Regions from separate parts of the Homo sapiens genome. Here regions 1, 2 and 3 are each linked to region 4. The links come from fine-mapping of genetic effects on gene expression. A gene starts in region 4. Each other region holds a variant in brackets. All regions are shown on one strand. Distances are between the middles of the regions. Region 1 overlaps NEK5 (NIMA related kinase 5). Region 2 overlaps ATP7B (ATPase copper transporting beta). Region 3 has its middle 59 kb from the start of CCDC70. Region 4 holds the start of ATP7B (ATPase copper transporting beta).

What was found. PIP is the estimated chance that this variant, and not a neighbour inherited with it, causes the effect.
Region 1: its variant is the best candidate, but not a certain one, in a credible set for the expression of ATP7B in unexposed skin (GTEx, PIP 0.57).
Region 2: its variant is the best candidate, but not a certain one, in a credible set for the expression of ATP7B in unexposed skin (GTEx, PIP 0.60).
Region 3: its variant is the best candidate, but not a certain one, in a credible set for the expression of ATP7B in cerebellum (GTEx, PIP 0.52).

The regions. Positions count from the first base shown.
Region 1 is chr13:52,096,057-52,101,095 of GRCh38, reverse strand. It overlaps NEK5 (NIMA related kinase 5), which reads left to right. Exons shown (of 24, transcript NM_001365552.1): 12 at 1,220-1,353. Among named protein-coding and RNA genes, the nearest start is that of NEK5, 30 kb to the left of the region's middle. The variant A/GA (reference allele first, on the strand shown) is at 2,664.
Region 2 is chr13:51,981,315-51,986,353 of GRCh38, reverse strand. The region is part of intron 1 of ATP7B (ATPase copper transporting beta); the gene reads left to right. Among named protein-coding and RNA genes, the nearest start is that of ATP7B, 28 kb to the left of the region's middle. The variant C/T (reference allele first, on the strand shown) is at 3,072.
Region 3 is chr13:51,918,633-51,923,671 of GRCh38, reverse strand. It overlaps a transcript of TMEM272 not described here. Among named protein-coding and RNA genes, the nearest start is that of CCDC70, 59 kb to the right of the region's middle. The variant G/A (reference allele first, on the strand shown) is at 2,418.
Region 4 is chr13:52,008,798-52,013,836 of GRCh38, reverse strand. It overlaps ATP7B (ATPase copper transporting beta), which reads left to right and starts at 2,387. Exons shown (of 21, transcript NM_000053.4): 1 at 2,387-2,550. The coding sequence starts at 2,500. ALG11 (ALG11 alpha-1,2-mannosyltransferase) reads right to left here and starts at 1,439. Exons shown (of 4, transcript NM_001004127.3): 1 at 1,375-1,439. The coding sequence starts at 1,418. RefSeq lists enhancers at 1,181-1,270, 1,321-1,450 and silencers at 1,571-1,670, 1,681-1,790, 1,841-2,180.

The sequences.
Region 1 (5,039 bases), 87 kb before region 4:
GGTGTCAAGAATCAGCTAAGCTGTGTGTCAGAGGGAGGGGTACGTTAAGAAAGAGAAAATTACTAATTCATTTGATGCTGTGAAAGTCAAAGCCCCAGAATTTAGCTGTAACTGAATGCCTGGACTTACAATATCAGGAGGAGCAGAAAGCCTCTCAAAGGAATCCATGACAGGGAAATGTTATCCATTGAGACAGAGATTCTAAAATCAAGGAAAGTTAAAGAGAAAGTGAATGAGCCTCTTTGCCATTTAATTTGACTAACATTGTTGTATACCAGTCTAGATTGAGAATGTTTAGAAAATAGACAAGTACAGAGTATGGGACTGTGTATTGTCCATATTTCTAATCTAGGTAAGATAGGAGAACAAGAACAATTTTTTTTTTATTGAGATGGGGTCTCACTGTGTTGCCCAGGCTGGTCTCGAACTCCTGAGCTCAAACAATCCTCCTACCTTGGCCTCCCAAATTGCTGGGATTACAGGTGCGAGCCACCTTACTCAGCCCAAGAACAAATTTTGATGGAGATAAAGACAAGCATTAGAAGATCTACTCATACCTCAGTCCTGGCACTTTGGGAGGCCAAGGAGGGCAGGTCACCGGAGGCCAGGAGTTTGATGCCAGTCTGGCCAACATGGCCAAACCATGTCTTTACTAAAAATACAAAAATTAGCTGGACCTGGTGGCCCATGCCTGTAATCCCAGCTCCTTGGGTGGCTGAGGCACAAGAATCGCATGAACTCGGGAGGTGAAGGTTGCAGTGAGCTCAGACCCTGCCACTGCACCGTAGCCCGGGTGACAGAGTGAGACTGTCTCAACAAAAAAAAAAGAGAGAAGATCTACTCATAAATTCCAAACAATGTGGCATGAATGGAGTGGCCTGATAACCCAAGCTCTAATGACCAAATTTAATAACTTTTATTATTACCCCATACATATTGTTTCTGTAAATGTTAATATTAATTTCTATTTTTCTGAAAAAAAGTGATGTTATATATTACTAGAAATATGCAAAGGGACTCTGAAAAAATGGTTTTTTTCATTTAAAGAAATTGCATATTAATTTTTCATCAGTACTCTCACTGTGTGTAAAATATCTCTGGCTAAAAAGTAAACTTACTGTGTTATGAAATGTAGCTTATGTTTATACTCTTACAAGTATCAGTATTAATGGTGTACAATTTTTAAAAAATTGAAGCTGTTTTATTTTGGTTAATTAAGAGTGTAAAATACAAAAAGTGAGATTCCAGGGAAAGTGCCCACCAAGATCAAGGATATCTGTGCCAATTAAAAGGAATGCTATATTGCATAGAAATGAATGGAGACCACCAGCTGGAGCCCAGAAGGCCAGATCTGTAAGTCATTCTAAACCCTCCTTTGTGTTTTTTAGCTATGGTATATGCTTTTTGTTTGTTTGTTTGTTTGTTTTGAGACGGAGTCTCGCTCTGTCGCCAGGCTGGAGTGCAGTGGCGCGATCTCGGCTCACCGCAAACTCCACCTCCCGGGTTCAAGCAATTCTTCTGCCCCAGCCTCCTGAGTAGCTGGGACTACAGACGTGTGCCACTATGCCCAGCTAATTTTTGTATTTTTGGTAGAGATGGGGTTTCACCATATTGGCCAGAATGGTCTCCATCTCTTGACCTCGTGATCCACCTGCCTGGGCCTCCCAAAGTGCTGGGATTACAGGTGTGAGCCATGGCGCCCGGCCCCGGCTAATTTTTATACTTTTAGTAGAGACAGGGTTTCACCATGTTGGTCAGACTGGTCTCGAACTCCTGACCTTGCGATCAGCCTGCCTCGGCCTCCCAAAGTGCTGGTATTACAAGCATAAGCCACTGCACCCAGCTGTTATATTCTTTTTCTTTAATTTTTTAATTAAAAAAAAAATTTTTGTGGGTACATAGTAAGTGTATATATTTATGGGGTATATGAGATGTTTTGATACAGGCAAGCAATGTGAAATAAGCACATCATGGAGAATAGGGTGTTTGTCCCCTCAAGTATTTATCCTTTGAGTTACAAACAACCCAGTTATACTCTGTAACTTATTTCAAAATGTACAATTAAGTTACTATTGACCATAGGCAGTCTATTGTGCTATCAAATAGTAGGTCTTATTCATTCTTTTGTTTTTTTAACCCATTAAGCTATGGTATATTCTGACAGACCTATCTGCACATGTTCATGAGGTACAAGCTTATTGTTTGGAGTCCACAAATTTTGTACTTAAAATGAAGTATTCTGTACTGAGCATTATAATGGTATTTTGTTGGACAACTTCTAGTTTTTATATTTTATGAAACAATGCTGTATGCTCTTATAAGTATACTTTAGGCTTAATTTTCTTTTTATAACTGAAATTCTTCTAATTTCTAATAAATAAGATTTTTCTGTATAGGAAAAGTGAGTAACATAGCAACAGAAAACACTCTGCATTTAATATTCTTAATTCTAACATATTATGTATAGGATTGAGAAGTTTTTATGATATAATAATTGATATTTCCCTAGTGATTCTTTGTGTTTAATTATTTGAATTCACTTCAGCAGAGTGTTGAATCTTTTAGGTCATACTAGTGAAATGCTTCTGGTATGTAAATGATAAAATGGCTACTGTCTTTTAATTAAAGAATTGTATTTTTAAAGAAGGCTCATGGTTAAATTA[A/GA]GAACCATTTGGAAGTGTATTTACTAAGTGTTTACTTGATATATAGACATTTTAGAAAATGTGTTGGTATATAAACATTTTTTTAAAAACCGATTGTTTAAGTTATTGCCCTTCATTTGATAAAGGGCTTTATTTATTTATTTATTTATTTATTTATTTATTTATTTATTTGAAAGAGGGTCCTGCTGTGTCACCCAGGCTAGAGGGCAGTGGCATGTCTCAGCTCACTGCAGCCTGGATGTATTAGTCTGTTCTCATACTACTATAAAGAACTGCTTGAGACTGGGTAGTTGATAAAGACAAGAGGTTTAATTGGCTTACAGTTCTGCAGGCTGTACAGGATGCATTGCTGGGGAGGCCGCAGGAAACTTATAATCATGGCAGAAGGGGAAGCAGGCTCATCTTAAATGGCCAGAGCAGGAGAAAGAGAGCAAAGGGGGAGGTGCTACACACTTGTAAACAACCAGATCTCTGGAGAACTTACTATCACAAGAACAGTAAGAGGGAAATCTGTCCCCATAATCTAATCACCTTCCACCAGGCCCCTCCTCCAACATCAGGGATTACAATTCAACATGAAATTTGGGCAGGGACACAAATCCAAACCATATCATTCCACCTTTGGCCCCTCCCAATTCCCATATCCTTCTCACATTGCAAAATACAATTATCCCTTCTCAACAGTCCCCCAAGGCTTAACTCATTTCAGCATTAACTCAAAAGTCCACAATTCAAGGTCTCTCTGAGACAAGTCAAGTCCCTTCCACCTGTGAGGCTGTAAAATAAAAAACAAGTTAGTTACTTCCAAAATACAATGAGGGTACAGGCATTGGGTAAATACACCCATTTCAAAAGGGAGAAATCAGCCAAAACAAAGGGTTTATAGACCCCATGCAAATTCAAAACCTAGCAGGGCAGTCATTAAATCTTAAAGCTCCAAATTCCTTTGACCCCATGTCTCACATCCAGGGCATACTGGTGTGAGGAGTGGGCTCTCAAGGCCTTGGGCAGCTCTGCTCCTGAGGCTTTGCAGGCTACAGCCCCTGCGGCTGCTCTCACAGGCTGCTGTTGAGTGTCTGCGGCTTTTCCAGGTGCGTGGTGCAAGCTGTCGTTCAATCTACCGTTTTTGGAGTCAGGAGAATGGTGGCCCTCTTCTCACAGCTCCACTAAGCAGTGCCCCAGTGGGGACTCTGTGTGGAGGCTCCAATGCCACATTTCCCCTCTGCACTGCCCTAGTAGAGGGTCCCCCTGAAACAGGCTTCTGCCTGGACGACTAGGCTTTTCCATACATCTTCTGAGATCTTGGTGGAGGCTCCCACGCCTCAACTCTTGCACTCTGTGCATCTGCAGACTTAACACCATGTGGAAGCCACCAAGATTTACGGCTTGCACCCTCTGAAGCAATGGCCTGAGCTGTACCTTGGGCCGTTTTAACCATGGCTGGAGCTGGAGCAGCCACAATACAGGACACCATGTCCTGAGGCTGCACAGAGCAGTGGGGCCCTGGGCTTGGTCCTCAAAGCCATTCTTCCCTCCTAGGCCTCTGGGCCTGTGATGAGAGGGGCTGCCTCAAAGGTCTCTGAAATGCCTTCAAGGCATTTCCCCCATTATCTTGGCTAACAACATTTGACTCCTCTTTATTTTTGAAAATTTCTGCAGCTGGTTTGAATTGCTCCCCAGAAAATGGGTTTTTCTTTCTAGGCTGCAAACTTTCCTAACTTTTACACTCTGCTTCTCTTTTAAGTATAAGCTCTGGTTTTACATCATTTATTTGCTCACAAATATGACCATAGGGTGCTAGAGCAGCCAGGCCACATCTTGAATACTTTGTTGCTTAGAAATTTTTTCTGTCAGACGCCCTAAATCATCACTCTCAAGTTCAAAGTTCCACAGATCCCTAGGGTAGTGGCACAATGCCTCCAACCTCTTTGCTAATTCATAACAAAAGTGTCCTTTGCTGCATTTCTCAATAAGTTCCTCATCTCCATCTGAGACCTCCTTAGCCTGGACTTTATTGACCATATCACTATCAGCATTTTGGTCACTATGATTTTAAGAAGTCTCTAGGGCATTCCAAACTTTCCATCATCTTCCTATCTTCTTCTGAGCCCTCCACGCTCTTCCAACCTCCGCCCATTACCCAGTTCCAAAGTCACTTTCACATTTTCAGGTATCTTTATACAATACCCCACTCCTGGTATCAATGTACTGTGTTAGTCCATTCTCATACTGCTATAAAGAACACCTGAGACTGGGTAATTTATAAAGAAAATACATTTAATTGGCTCACAGTTCTGCAGGCTGTACAGGAAGTATGGCTGGGGAGGCCTCAGGAAATTTATAATCATAGCAGAAGGGGAGGCAGGCTCATCTTAC
Region 2 (5,039 bases), 27 kb after region 4:
TTTGGAGGGTGTATGTGTCCAGGAATTTATCCATTTCTTCTAGATTTTCTAGTTCATTTGCTTAGAGGTGTTTGTAGTATTCTCTGATGGTAGTTTGTATTTCTGTGGGATCGGTGGTGATATCTCCTTTATCATTTTTTATTGCATCGATTTGATTCCTCTCTCTTTTCTTCTTTATTAGTCTGGCTAGCGGTCTATCTATTTTGTTGATCTTTTCAAAAAACCAGCTCCTGGATTCATTGATTTTTTTGAAAGGTTTTTCATGTGTCTATCTCCTTCAGTTCTGTTTTGATCTTAGTTATTTCTTGTCTTCTGCTAGCGTTTGAATTTCTTTGCGCTTGCTGCTCTAGTTCTTTTAATTGTGGTGTTAGGGTGTTGATTTTAGAGCTTTCCAGCTTTCTTTTGTGGGCATTTAGTCCTAGAAATTTCCCACTAACCAGTGCTTTGGCTGTGTCCCAGAGATTCTGGGATGTTGTGTCTTTGTTCTCATTGGCTTCAAAGAACTTATTTCTGCCTTAATTTCATTATTTACCCAGTAGTCATTCAGGAGCAGGTTGTTCAGTTTCCATGTAGTTTTACAGTTTTGAGTGAGTTTCTTAATCCTGAGTTCTAATTTGATTGCACTGTGATCTGAGAGACTGTTTGTTATTATTTCTGTTCTTTTGCATTTGCTGAGGAGTGTTTCACTTCCAATTATGTGGTCAATTTTAGGATAACTGCAATGTGGTGCTGAGAAGAATGTATATTCTGTTGATTTGGGGTGGAGAGTTCTGTAGATGTCTATTAAGTCTGTTTGGTCCAGAGCTGATTTCAAGCCCTGAATATCGTTGTTAATTTTCTGCCTCATTGATCTGTCTAATATTGACAGTGGGGTGTTAAAGTCTCCCACTATTACTGTGTGGAAGTCTAAGTCTTTTTGTAGGTCTCTAAGAACTTGCTTTATGAATCTGGGTGTTCCTGTATTGGGTGCATATATATTTAGGATAGTTAGCTCTTCTTGTTGCATTGATCCCTTTACCATTATGTAAGGCCCTTCTTTGTCTCTTTTGATCTTTTTGGTTTAAAGTCTGTTTTATCAGAGACTAGGATTCCAACCCCGACTTTTTTTTGCTTTCCATTTGCTTGGTAAATCTTCCTCCATCCCTGTATTTCGAGCCTATGTGTGTGTTTGCACATGAGGTGGGTCTCCTGAATACAGCACATCAATGAGTCTTGACTCTTTATCCAATTCGCCAGTCTGTGTCTTTTAATTGGGGCATTTAGCCTGTTTACGTTTAAGGTTAGTATTGTTATGTGTGAATTTGATCCTGTCATTATGATGCTAGCTGGTTATTTTGGCTATTAGTTGATGCAGTTTCTTCATAGTGTCTATGGTCTTTACAATTTGGTATGTTTTTGCAGTGACTGGTACCAGTTGTTCCTTTCCATGTTTAGTGCTTCCCTTCAGGAACTCTTGTAAGGCAGGCCTAGTGGTGACAAAATCTCTCAGCATTTGCTTGTCTGTAAAGAATTTTATTTCTCCTTCACTTATGAAGCTTAGTTTGGCTGGATATGAAATTCTGGGTTGAAAATTATTTTCTTTAAGAATGTCGAATATTGGCCCCTATTCTCTTCTGGCTTGTAGGGTTTCTGCAGAGAGATCTGCTGTTAAGTCTGATGAGCTTCCCTTTGTGGGTAACCTGACCTTTCTCTCTGGCTGCCCTCAACATTTTTTCCTTCATTTCAAGCTTGGTGAATCTGACGATTATGTGTCTTGGGGTTGCTCTTCTTGAGGAGTATCTTTGTTGTGTTCTCTGTATTTCCTGAATTTGAATGTTGGCCTGTCTTGCTAGGTTGGGGAAGTTCTCCTGGATAATATCCTGAAGAGTGTTTTCCAACTTGGTTCCATTCTCCCCGTCATTTTCAGGTACACCAGTCAAACTTATGTTTGGTCTTTTCACATAGTCTTATATTTCTTGGAGGCTTTGTTTGTTCCTTTTCATTCTTTTTTCTCTATCTTGTCTTCACGCTTTATTTCATTAAGTTGATCTTCAGTCGCTGATATTCTTTCTTCTGCTTGATCGATTTGGCTATTGATACTTGTGTATGCTTCACGAAGTTCTTGTGCTGTGTTTTTCAGCTCCATCAGGTCATTTATGTTCCTCTCTAAACTGATTATTCTAGTTAGCAATTTCTCTAACCTTTTTTCAGGGTTCTTAGCTTCCTTGCCTTGGGTTAGAACATGCTACTTTAGCTCGGTGGAGTTTTTTTATTACCCACCTTCTAAAACCTACTTCTGTCAATTTGTTAAACGCATTCTCCATCCAGTTTTGTTCCCTTGCTGGCGAGGGAGTTGTGATCCTTTGAAGGAGAAGAGGCATTCTGGTTTTTGGAATTTTCAGGCTTGTTGCGCTGGTTTCTCCCCATCTTCATGGATTTATCTACCTTTGCTTTTTGATGTTGGTGACCTTCGGATGGCGTTTCTGAGTGGACGTCCTTTTTGTTGATATTGATGCTATACCTTTCTGTTTGTTAGTTTTCCTTCTAACAGTCAGGTCCCTCTGCTGCAGGTCTGCTAGAGTTTGCTGGAGGTCCACTCCAGACCCTGTTTGCCTGAGTATCACCAGCAGAGGCTACAGAACAGCAAAGATTGCTGCCTGTTCCTTCCTGGAAGCATTGTCCCTGAGGGGCACCTGCCAGATGCCAGCCAGACTCTCTTGTATGGGGTATCTTTTGGCCCCTGCTGGGGGGTGTCTCCTGGTCAGGAGACACAGGGGTCACGGACCCACTTGAGGAGGCAGTCTGACCCTTAGCAGAGCTCGAGCACTGTGCTAGGAGATCCACTGCTCTCTTCAGAGCTGGCAGGCAGGGACCTTTGAGACTGCTGAAGCTGCACCCACAGCCACCATTTGCCCCAGGTGATCTGTCCCAGGGAGATGGCTTCATCTATAAGCCCCTGACTGGGGCTGCTGCCTTTTTTTCAGAGATGCCCTGCCCAGAGAAGAGGAATCTAGAGAGGCAGTCTAGCTACAGTAGCTTTGCTGAGCTGCGGAGGGCTCCAGCCAGTTGCCATTTCCCTGTGGCTTTGTTTA[C/T]ACTATGAGGGGAAAACCACCTGCTCAAGCCTCAGTAATGGTGGATGCCCCTCCCCCGACCAAGCTTGAGCATCCCAGGTCGATTTCAGACTGTTGTGCTGGCAGTGAGAATTTCAAACCAGTGGATCTTAACTTGCTGGGCTCTGTAGGGGTGGGATCCGCTGAGCTAGACCACTTGGCTCCCTGGCTTCAGCCACCTTTCCAGGCGAGTGAACGGTTCTGTCTTGCTGGCATTCCAGGCACCACTGGGGTATGAAAAAAAAACTCCTGCAGCTAGCTTGGTGTCTGCCCAAACGGCTGTCCAGTTTTGTGCTTGAAACCCAGGGCCCTGGTGGTGTAGGCACCCGAGGGAATCTCCTGGTCTGTGGGTTGTGAAGACCGTGGGAAAAGTGTAGTGCCTGGACCAGAGTGCACCATTCCTCATGGCACAGTCCCTCGCGGCTTCCCTTGGCTAGTGGAGGAGGTTCACTAACCACTTGTGCTTCCTGCATGAGGCAACACCCCACCCTGCTTTGGCTTGCCCTCCATGGGCTGTACCCGCTGTTTAACCAGATGAGCTGGGTACCTCAGCTGGAAATGCAGAAATCACCCTCCTTCTGCGTTGATCTCGCTGGGAGCTGCAGACTGGAGCTGTTCCTATTCGGCCATCTTGCCACAAGCTGATGTTAGTCTTTTAGGGCCCATTAGCTCTCAAGCCTTCCTGTACAACTGTAAGATGGCCATTATTATTACTCCCGCCAGATGCCAGCCGGAGCTTTCTTGTATCTAAACCTGTGTTTGTTTTTTAAAACTCATCAGGAGAGTTTTTTCCTCCAAAGATCATCTTAATTGAAGAACTGAATTAAAAGCATACATGTGCCCTGTGTCTACACTTAAAACTATCCAAAACACAAACCTTTATACCTAAAGGAAACTGAGGCCTGGATTTGCTCAGATAATGCTGGAATTCATACTTAAAACTCTCAGACATACCCTCAAGAAATTCAGAAGTAGGAAAGACAGATATTTAAACAAATATATGTGAAAATGCTCTTTGAACTATAAAGCAATTTACAAAAGTGTCATCAATTCATCATTGTTGTTATCTTTATCACAGTCAATAATATTGTTGCCCAAATTAGAATGGTTTAACAAAACATTTTCTTCCTTGCCTTAGAGCAGGGGTGTCCAAACTTTTGACTTTCCTGGGCCACATTAGAAGAAGAATGTGTCTTCGGCCACACATAAAATACGCTAACACTAATAATAGATGATGAGCTAAAAAAAAAAAAAAAAAATTCACACCCAAAAAAATCTCATTATGTTTTAAGAAAGTTTACAAATTTGTGTTGGGCCGTATTCAAAGCCATCCTGGGCTGCATGTGGCTTGCAGGCCATGGGTTGGACAGGCTTGCCTTAGACAAACGGGAAAATCACATTTATTTTCTGCTTGTGAAAGTAACACTTGTTTTTTTAATTTAAGTTTGAAAAATTGGAACTATGTACAGATATTTTTAAAAATCAGTATTTCATAACTCACCAAAAGATAACCTGAATTTTCTCTACTGATATTTACGTTTATCCCCCTGTATACTTAATGTTCATAGAGGTTAATATGGGACATTGATTCTTCCTCAGTGGGGGTTTTAGAGACCAACCCCCACTGGCCTGGATGCCTGGGATGGTTTGGGTGAGATCCTTTCTTGAGTCAGGCATCATTTTTGACCTGTGCCCTCCCCTGTGAATTTGTGGCATCCAGAGAATTCTTAGATAAGGCCGAGCAAGGCAGTACTCATTCCAGATATTCAGGATGTACGTGGTCCAGAGCTGTTGTCTTCTCTGACTTGTGTCTTGTGTGCCTTCTCCTGTAAGTGTGGTTGCCTTGATTAGGGATATTGAGGAAAGTGGAGCGAGTGTGGATATTTTGCTGTAGTTTTCCTGAGGTGACAGATACTAGTGGGTGAAGCCAGGGCTCAGGCAGCTCAGCTC
Region 3 (5,039 bases), 90 kb after region 4:
CCTTTTTTTCCATCCCTTCCTTCTCTCCTCCCTTCTTTTTCTCTCTTCTTCTTTGAACAGGCAGCTTTGGAGCTGTTTGTCTCACCAGTGGCTCTCAAGTCCACAGCGCCAGCCCCAAAGCATCTGAGTGGCTGCCGGCACTTTCCACTGTGAGATGTGCTGCCTGAGGGTCTGGTGCTTGGCTGTGGGCTTTCAACCGATCTCAGTGTGGGTGTGGCACAACTGACACTGTTGCTTTTCCTGGCCTTAACAAGCCACCCATTCCATCGCCTCCCCAGGTGGCTGTGGTGGTGGCAGTGAAGCCTGTCAGGTCACAGAGCAGCTCCTCACCAGCCCATCGCATTCTGTCTCCGGAGAGGTCCCATCACAGGCGATGGGGCAGAGAGGACTGAGTCGCAGCCCAGATCTCAGTGTCTAGGACTGGACTTGGTTTGTCAAAAGTGTAGTCTCCCATCCCTGCTGGCATTGGCAGGCTGCAGTGCAGAGTGCCTAGGGCTCATCAGGATTTGCCAACAGAGGCTTGTCCAAGAATCATCCAGCCAGCTCCACGTGAGGTTACATTGCCATCACCGGACTCTGATGGAGGATTCAGACAGCCCACTCCATGCCTCCAGCACCACACCCTGCAGCTGGCAGAACAGTGGCCCCCAAGACATCCTCATCCGAATCCTCAGAGCCTGTGAAGGGCAAAAGGAGCCCTGCACATGTGATTAAGGGTCTTGACATGGCAAGAGGATCCTGGACCATGTGGGTGGCCCCAGATAATCACAAGGGTGTTTCTAAGAGGGAGGTAGGAGGATCAGAGAGGAGATGCAATGATAGAGGAAGAGGTTGGAGGGATGCGATTGGAGATGGAGGCAGGGCCACAAGCCAAGGACTGTGGTGGCCTCAGAAGCTGGAAGAGGCGAGGAATAGATCCTCCCTTGGAGCCTCCAGAAGGACCCAGCCCTGCCCACATCTTGATTTTAGCTCATAAGACCCATTTCAAACTTCCAACCTCTGGGACGGTAAGAGGACAAATTTGCATTGTTTTAAGCCATGAAGTTTGCAGTAGTTTGTTACAGCTGCAACAGGAAGTGAATCCACCCACCTAAGCTCTTCTGCAGGTGTGATCCCTGTCCCACAGGAGTCACTGCTGTCGCCTGGCAGGTTGAGGCTGCAGTGAGCTGTGATCACACCACTGTGCTCCAGCCAGGGTGACAGGGCCAGACCCTGTCCCCAAAACTAAATAAATAAAAATAATTTAAAAAATTACCGTGAAAAGTATCAACTGCTTTGTATATAGAAATACAACCCAGCAGTCCTGGGAACAGGAGCCTAAGCCTGGGCCACGCCCACCCAAGACTTCTCTGAAGAAGCCTCTGAAGCTGAGCGCATTTGGGAATCACTAGTGTATAAACAGGGCTCTTTTCTGGAGATGACCCTTCCTGTGTTTATCTGCCCCGTGAGTCATTAAGAAAAGGGCATGTGCCCAGCATTTCCCAACGAACTGTGAAACCTTTTTTCAAGCGATAACTCCTGCGGTTGGATGGTCTGTAAAGGATGAACTGATACGCCATCTCCACCCTCTGACACTCCCTGCTCAAGAGGCCAGGGCTGCCTGCAGAGAGGTGTGAGGGAGGAACAAGAAAACAAAGACGTTAAGTCTTGACAGTTATGTTTTAAAAAGCACAACCCACACGTATAAATGAGTGGAGAGATTGCATGATCAGGCTGAACCAACACATATCCCCAACACACACACACATACACACACACACGCACACAGTGGGTGGGGAGGGATACTGATGAGAAAGAATGTGAGAAAGATTACATCAGGTTGAGTTTCTGAGAAAATGCTTTGGACCTCCGCTCCCCAGCTGAGTGGGAGAGAGGGGAGAGCAGGGGGCACATGTCTGTGAGAAAAAGATGCTTGAGCCCCTTAAGTTCTGACGGCTTGAAGGTAGAGCAGACCATTATCCCCTTATGCTGCGTTAATGTCCTGGAAGAGGAGTTGCCCAGAGCTTCCCCTGTGGCCTGGGTGAGCAAAGGACAGGTGTTGCCTGGATGTGTGCTTAGGTGGGCTACTGACAGCAAGAGCTCCGAGGAAGAGGGTGCCTGGTGTGCCTTAGAGAGGCACAGCCCCCAGGGGTGCCCCACCTCGGTAGATTCCCTTGCCTGGAGGTAGACTTGCAGGAACTGCTCTGAGCTTAGACACTGAAGACTGAGGAGCAAATCCGCTGCTAGGCTGGGATGAGCAGCCTTCTTTCCTGCCCTTGGATCATTTAAGTCTCCTGGATTTCTGTGAGACTTTGGGAGCCTCCTGGAGTCCAGTAACAACCAATCTGTAATTTCCAGCCCAGTGGAATTAGAGACTGGAATAGCAGTTCACTAGAGACCCAGGTTTATGGATTGAGAGGCAAACCTGCTAGATATCC[G/A]AACGTCTGCTCTGCACCAGGTCTTGAAGGAAAACCCAGGGCTTGCCCCATCTCTTGCCACACACCTTACTGCTCATGGTCACTGCAGGTACTTGACAGCCTGAGAAATGTGTAGCCGCTTCTCCATTCTCAGATCAATGTCTGCGTATTGACCAGGGTCAGCACTCAATGGCTGCCTCCTGATACAGCAAGCTCTCTGCCTAGCTCCTCTCCCACCAGGCGTCGCAGAGCTGTGAATTGCAGTTATCACAAGCAAAATGAAATGAGTTTGAGCCTAAGGGGAATCCATAATTGGAGTGCAGGAATGTTGCAGTTTCACAGCTGGGCCTCAGGCACGATGGGGCAGAGAATCTGAAGGCCACCGGAAGTCCACTTGCAATAAATACTCATTAGGTGACTGTCGCAATTGTAGGTGAGGGATCTACAGCCAAGAAACGATTCAGACAAGGCTCCTGCCCTTCATGAGTTTACATTCTAGTGGAACAAAGAGACAGCAATAATAGGCAAATCCTGTCATTTCTGCCAGTGGAAAGTGCCATGAAGACACTGTAGCAGGACAGCAGGGTAGAGGAGGCAGTGATGAGAGGTGGGGAGGGGGATTGCCATGGGAAGATACTGCCCTGTGAGTGAGAAAGCCCTGAGGGGACCCGGCTGGGAGGGTCAGCACTGGTGCACATGGGTAGGATGGAGGGAGGCAGGAAGAACAGGCCCAGATCTCAAAGACACCAGCAGAGCAAGAAGTTGACACTTTATTGCAAAGCTGCTGGGAGACATTGGAGGGCTTGAAGGAGGGGCGTGACATGATTTGCTTCATGTGGTGAGTGGATTGTAGGGGAGTGAAGAGGCCATGCCCTACCCAGACCCTCCTCAGGGCTCACCTGTGCTGCCTGGCACAGAGCAGGAGTGGAAATACACGTTGGCTGAATTACTGTCAAAGTCTTATCTTTTCTCTGTCAAGTCTTAGCTGGCTTGAGACCATGTAGTTCCCTTCATCTGGAAAATGACACCAAATATTCTATAACTAGCTGTTATCAGACCCGTTTCAGGAGCAGTGCAAAATACAGGCAGCAGCGCAAAATACAGGCAGCAGCTCACATCTTTCTGCTGAGAGGTAAAACGCTTGCTGAGAGTATGTTCTTTGGTTGCAGGCATATACATTGCTATTAAAATGCCTCTTGGATTCCTCACTGCAACGTCATACCTGGACTTCCACAAAATAATTCCACGTATTGCCTAGTCCTTAGCTCCTGAGCCTGGTGATAGAAAGCCTCCCTCCCTCCTTTCCTTCCTTCCTTCTTCCTTTCCTTCCTTCCTTTTCTCCTTCATATTAATCCACTATGAGCTAGGCATGATGCATTAATAGCATAGAGATGAAAGTACTCACTTTCTTTGCTTGCATTTGAGTGGGGGAGTCAGAAAAGCAAACAAGCACAAGAAAATGTCACAGGGACGGTGGCAGGTGAGGAGAGCGACATGCTCACGCAGGTGCGCAGCAGGAGACCTGCAAAGGCAGGTCACCATGGCACCGTTTGCTCGGGACACAGCCGAGACGTCTGCTTAGGGAAGTGGACAGACAACTTGCGATGTGTGTCATAAGAGAAAGTATTTACTCTGCAGCATTCAGAATGAACCAACAGGATCTGTGTGTATCAATATGGGGAAAACACAGTGTTGAGTGAAAAAAATTACAGATACTTAAAGAGTCATGAAGATTAAAAAAAATAATTTTATGTATTGTTCTAGACACCAGTCTCTGTGGTCAAAGTACAAACATGGTCTGGGGCTATATACCAAGTTCAGATCGGTGGTTTCCTATGGGGAGCAAGAGAAGAGAATGGGGTCTGGGAGAGGTGTGTCGGGGCCTTCAGCTATATTTGTAACTTGTTATTTCTAAAACTATGAAGCAAATGTACCAAAATGTCAGCACTGGTTAAATCTGGGTAGTGGGTCAGGGATTTTGTCTTCTTATTCTCTGTATTTATATACATATTTAAAATATGTGTAAATTTTTAAAAATACACGTGGGTCTGGTGTTTGTAGAGAGGGCAGGACTAAAGCTATAGCATTGGCTCACCTTCACAGCAGGCTCAGGTGAATCAGTGGGCTGGGGAGTTTCACCTGGGCCTCGGCACTGGCCACTGGCACTTCACACAGAGGCGAGCAAGGGCCTTGGGAAGCACTTATTTTTCACAAAGCAGGTAGAGAAAGAGAAGGAAAAGATGGGAATAGGAGGTTTCAGAAAGGAGCAGAGCCAGGAGAGATGTGTCATAAGGAGGTCCAGGAAAGAAAAATAATTTCTAATTATGGGGCCGGTCATGGTGGCTCATGCCTGTAATCCTGGCACTTTGGGAGGCCAAGGTGAGTGGATCACTTGAACTCAAGAGTTCGAGACCAGCCTGGGCAACATGGCAAAACCCTGTCTCTACAAAAAAAAAAAAAAAAAAAAAAAAAGAATTTCAAAAATTAGCCAGGCATGGTGACGTGTCCCTGTGGTCCCAGCTACTTGGGAGGCTGAGGTGGGAGGATACTTGAGCTGGGGAGGTTCAGGCTTCAGTGAGCTGTGATTGCACCACTGTGCTCCAGCCTGGATGACAGAGCAAGACGTTGTTCCAAAGACTAACT
Region 4 (5,039 bases):
AAGGGCCTTGGGACCTGCATGGTCCATGGAGCACAATTTGAGAACCACTGCCTTAAAGGATGAACAGAGTCTGACAAAAGTGGTAAGATTTATCATTTATTTAACATTTGGAATATATGAATTCATAAAAGCAACACTACAGAGGACAGTTTGCTTTCTCAGGACACTCTTTCAAAAGCTTATTTAAAATGCAGCTGACCCATATAATGTAAAGGTTTTTCTGGCAATTCCTTCAAATAATTTAGGTGGGAAAATTCATGTGACAAGCTTTTCAAACTGAACTATTAAACATTTAACTTAAAAGCTGCATAATAACTAAAGTTAAACCTGTCCTTTAAGTCTGGTTAGTGAGTTTATTTAAACATTATAATGTAAAGCACTGAGGAATATTACGTATGACAGGGAAGAACCAAAAGGCTCTGATAACAGACTTTCTCATTCAAAATGTTTAAAGTAATGATTACAGAATTTGAAGTAGAGTGGACAAAAACGAAGAAGAAATGCCTGAACTTTTGAAAGAATTAGGTATATACTGCTATTCAGGAAGCTATGGTGTTAATTATAAATTTTCAGCCTGAACAAAAATATGTAGGTGGTAAAAAAACTAGGTAGGTAGAATATACTAGGCCTTCTGTTTTATTAGTGGAGGGCAAGGCATTTAAAATACAGTAGTACTACAACAACAAAGGTGGAAAAAAGCCTGGGAGTTTTTTCACCAAAATGTTAACAGTGGCTATCTCCGGATGGTAGCATTCCTGGGGTTTTTTCCTTTTACTTATCTATTTTCTAATTTTTCTAGAAGAAACAGCATATACACGTAATACAAATAAAATAATATTTTATGTAACTTCTTACATCATAAAAATTAAAGTAACAGATTATCAAAAAGCAGAGGATTCAACATAAGCTTTATATTTAAGTGACGTGTTAACAATGGCAGTTTTGGTGAGTTTAAGAGTAGAAACTAAGATGAGAAGGAAGATCCGGTTTCTTCTTTACCGAAAAGAGACATGATAGATTGGAAAATGTCTCGTGGCTCAATCGTAAAGAAAAATAAGGAATGAATATGAATAATTTATGACAGACTAACTGGAGTGTGAAAGGGAAAAAAAAAGCTGAAGCAGGGAAGGGAACTCGACCCCTCGGCCAACAGTGAAGCAGAAGAAAACGCGGTAAATTGAGTCTTTAAGACCTAGTCTATTCCAGTCTATATAGAAGACCCCCAAGAAAAAGAAAGACTGCTCATTGGCCTGAGAAATTACCTTAGATTCATGACAAGGAAGGCCATTTGCCCGCAAAATTTAGCTACACTGGACGGGCAAGTACCCCTACAGAAGAGAAAACGTCTGTGAGCCCACACGACCGGCTGCTCACCTCAACAACTTGCACAGGCACCAGCTCCTTTCGCCGGCCGCCATCTTCCGCCGACCCCCGAACTCAGGAAACGCTTCACTTTCCTTTTCCCTATTGGCTCCTGAGAAAGCAAGCCGTGCTCGCCCCGCCCCCACGGGCCAATTGTGCGTTACTATTGGTTACTGGTAGCCGCTTCCCACGGCCTTCCAGCCAATAGAATATGCCGAGGCGTAGACTAGTGTTCGGCGTGGCGCACACGGCTCCCGCCCCCGTGGGCGGGACAGCAGTGGGGGGTTGGGCTGAGGAGGGCGTGGCCTGTGATTGACAGCCGTCGCTCCCTCCCTCGGCCACCTCCCCCACTAGAAGCCCCCGCCTGGGCGCCTGCGCCCCCGTTCCCGGCCCAAAGCCCGCCGCCCGTTGGAGGCCATTGGCTGGCCTTTGCGCACAGCGGATCGATTTTCCAGGTGCGGAGTTCACTCTTGCCGCGGTTGCTTCCTTTGGGACCCACGGCGTCCGGCAGCCAGGCGCAGAGTCCGAGGAGGGGGCAGCGCAGAGCGGACCCGACGCGGCGCCGCCGGGCACCTTCCCCGCAGGCGGTGGGTGAGCCCTGGGAGCTGAGTCTGCGGCCCGGCTCTGCGCAGCTCACCTGCCCTCCCGCTCCCGCACACGCGTGAGATCCCAGTACAGTGTCGGAGCGCACCAGCGCGAGGTGGCCGAGACCGCGGAGGAGGACAGGCCTCCGCCCTGCGGCGCCGGCACGGCAGAGGACATTGTGGCACTGGCACGGCAGAGAACACTGTGGCACCGGCGGGGCCGGCAGTTCCAGGGTGGGCACTCCCAGCCACCTGGGGAGTGGGCGAGGGTCCGAGGCCCACTCTCCCCTCACGCTCTCATCCCCGTGCCCCCAGGTCGGGAGGACGGCGGCGCGCAACTTTGAATCATCCGTGTGAAGAGGGCTGCGGCTTCCCCGGTCCCAAATGAAGGGGCGGTTCCCGGACCCCTGTTTGCTTTAGAGCCGAGCCGCGCCGATGCCCTCACACTCTGCGCCTCCTCTCCCGGGACTTTAACACCCCGCTCTCCTCCACCGACCAGGTGACCTTTTGCTCTGAGCCAGATCAGAGAAGAATTCGGTGTCCGTGCGGGACGATGCCTGAGCAGGAGAGACAGATCACAGCCAGAGAAGGGGCCAGTCGGAAAGTGAGTTTTGTTCCCCCGCGTCCGCGCAGCGTGCTCACTCCCACCAGGAGGATTTTCCTCCCCGCGTTCGGCGCTTACTCGCCCCCAGGGGGTGCGCAGGGAAGGCCGAGCCAGACCCCAGCTCCAGGGATGTCTTGGCGTGGGAGAAAAGGACCCTTTAGAAAAAGTGTGCCGTCAACTGATGTTTGGGAGCAATGGAAAACCCCGCACCTCAAAATTCATCTTTATGCTTTTAAGGGGTCTGATGCTGGAGAGATAAAGTGAGCGTCGAGTTGCTGTGCTAGAGCCCTAATGGCTCAAAACGATGAAGTTAGTTACCTGGAGAAGTTACTCAGAGCCTGGTGCTTGGACCAGATATGGTATATCGAGGTCCTGGAACTTTTATAACTGTTTTAAATTCATTTTAATTGTACAAGTAATACATTAAGACAGTCTTTTAAAAATGGAAACAGCACAGAAATATTTTGCACAAAAAGCAGATCTATTTTTCAGTCTTTTTCTATTCACGTACATATGTCTTCATTCGGCAAATATTTATTGAGAACTTTCTATGTTTCAGGCACACAGTGTTGAGTTGATACAGTGGTTAACAAGACATGTATCTATATGTAATATGCACACATTCAGAGAAATCTTTAGGTTTCATTTGTATGAGGTGTTAAAATTTTTGTTTTACCTAAATGAGATCACTGTATGTGCATTCTCTTTTTTCAGTTTAACGATATATCTTAGAGATTGTTTCACTAACTGTCTAATTCAGTGCAACCTCTGCACAGTTTGGACGCATCATAGTTTATTCATGGTTTCCTAGTGGTGGACGTTCTGTTTGCTACTTTTTTTCTCTCTCTCTTGCAAGTGAACATCTTTGTACATGATTTTTAATGCTGACACTATTTCTTTAGGATAGATACTTAGGCCTGGATTGCTGGACAGAACAGTAGGCTGTTTCTTTTCCACAGATTTCTGAAACTAATTCACTGACGTTGCTGGGTGCCCTTTAGTAGTGAATTCATCTAGGCTCCGGTGATACAGAAATGAAAACTAACGGATTAGTGGACAGACAGAGAGAGGCTGGTTAGTAGGTGGTTTGTAGGGTATGATGACTATGCATTTGATAGGAGTATGAAGAAATGTTGGGAGGGGTGGCTTGTACAGAGGAGATTTCAACTTCCTACAGTGTCCCCACCTAGAGAAAGAAATCATTATCCTTCCAAATCAAGCTCAAGACCTGCCACCTCCTTGAAACGTTCTGTAACTGCTCCTGCCCATGTTGACCTGTCTTCTGGAATCCTCTGATAATAGCGTTGACCAGCGTTATTGAGCTTACTGTGTGCTGGGCATTGTGTTAGGCACTCATATCCCTCTATGTGCACTCTCGCGTTTAATCCTCACAAAAACCCTTTGATGTAGGTATTATATCTTGTTATCAACATTTATTCAACAAATTTTTTTGTGTGTACTATGTGCTCAAACACATAGTACTCAAAGTTTTAGACACTGGGGATTTAGGTAGGACCGAGACCTTGCCCTCATGAATTTACATCCTAGTTGGAGATAGGAAAAAAAAAGGGATAAACAAATGTATAGCGTAGGAGTTAAGGGAAAACTTTTGTGCCCCGTGAAGCGTCACTGAAAAATCAACTGACAAATGGCAGATTAATAGGAGAGAAGGCATACACATTTACTAACGTGCCGTGAGAGTCTTACAACATAAGATCTCAAAGGAAGGCAAGGTGGTTGCCACAATTATACTATCCTGAGGTTACAGAAAGTGTGGGGGCTCTAAGCTTGGCCAAAAACAGGTTATGGTTGTAAATCAGGTTATAGGAGGGAGAGAAGAGGAGACCTGGCTAGCAAAGGTGGTCTTATGTAGATGAAACCTCACAGGTAGCAGCCCTCAGGGAGAAGAAATGTTTCAGACCTTGAAGGTGCCAAATTCAGCTAATCTCACCCAGATCCAGACAAGGAAGGGCCCTCTGAGAAAAACTGGCTGCGTCAATGGAGGTTCTCAACAGATGCTCATCTCCCTCACAGTAGGACTACTTTTGTCTGTAGGCCCTCTGAACGGCCATCTCAAAATATTTCCAATAAGTCTGTTTTGAGGTGAAATGTTTTAGTTTCCTTCAATAGCTTTATTTCAGGTACTAGTAAGTACTATGAAGAAAATAAAGCAGTTTGGGTCCAGGAGTTCAAGACCAGCCTGGCAGCATATCAAGACATCGTTTATACAAAAAAAAAAGAAAAATTAGCTGGGCATAATGGTGTGTGCCTGTCGAACCAGCTACTCGGGAGGCTGAGGCAGGAGGATGGCTTGAGCCCAGGAGTTTGAGGCTACAGTGAGTTGTGATCCCACCACTGCACTTCAGCCTGAGTGATAAAGCAAGATCCTGTCTCAAAAAAAAAGAAAAGAAAAGAAAGCAGAATAAGGGAATAAGATAGGGATTGACATGGGTGGAGAGGAAGATGCTGTTTTAAGTAGGTGGTCAGGG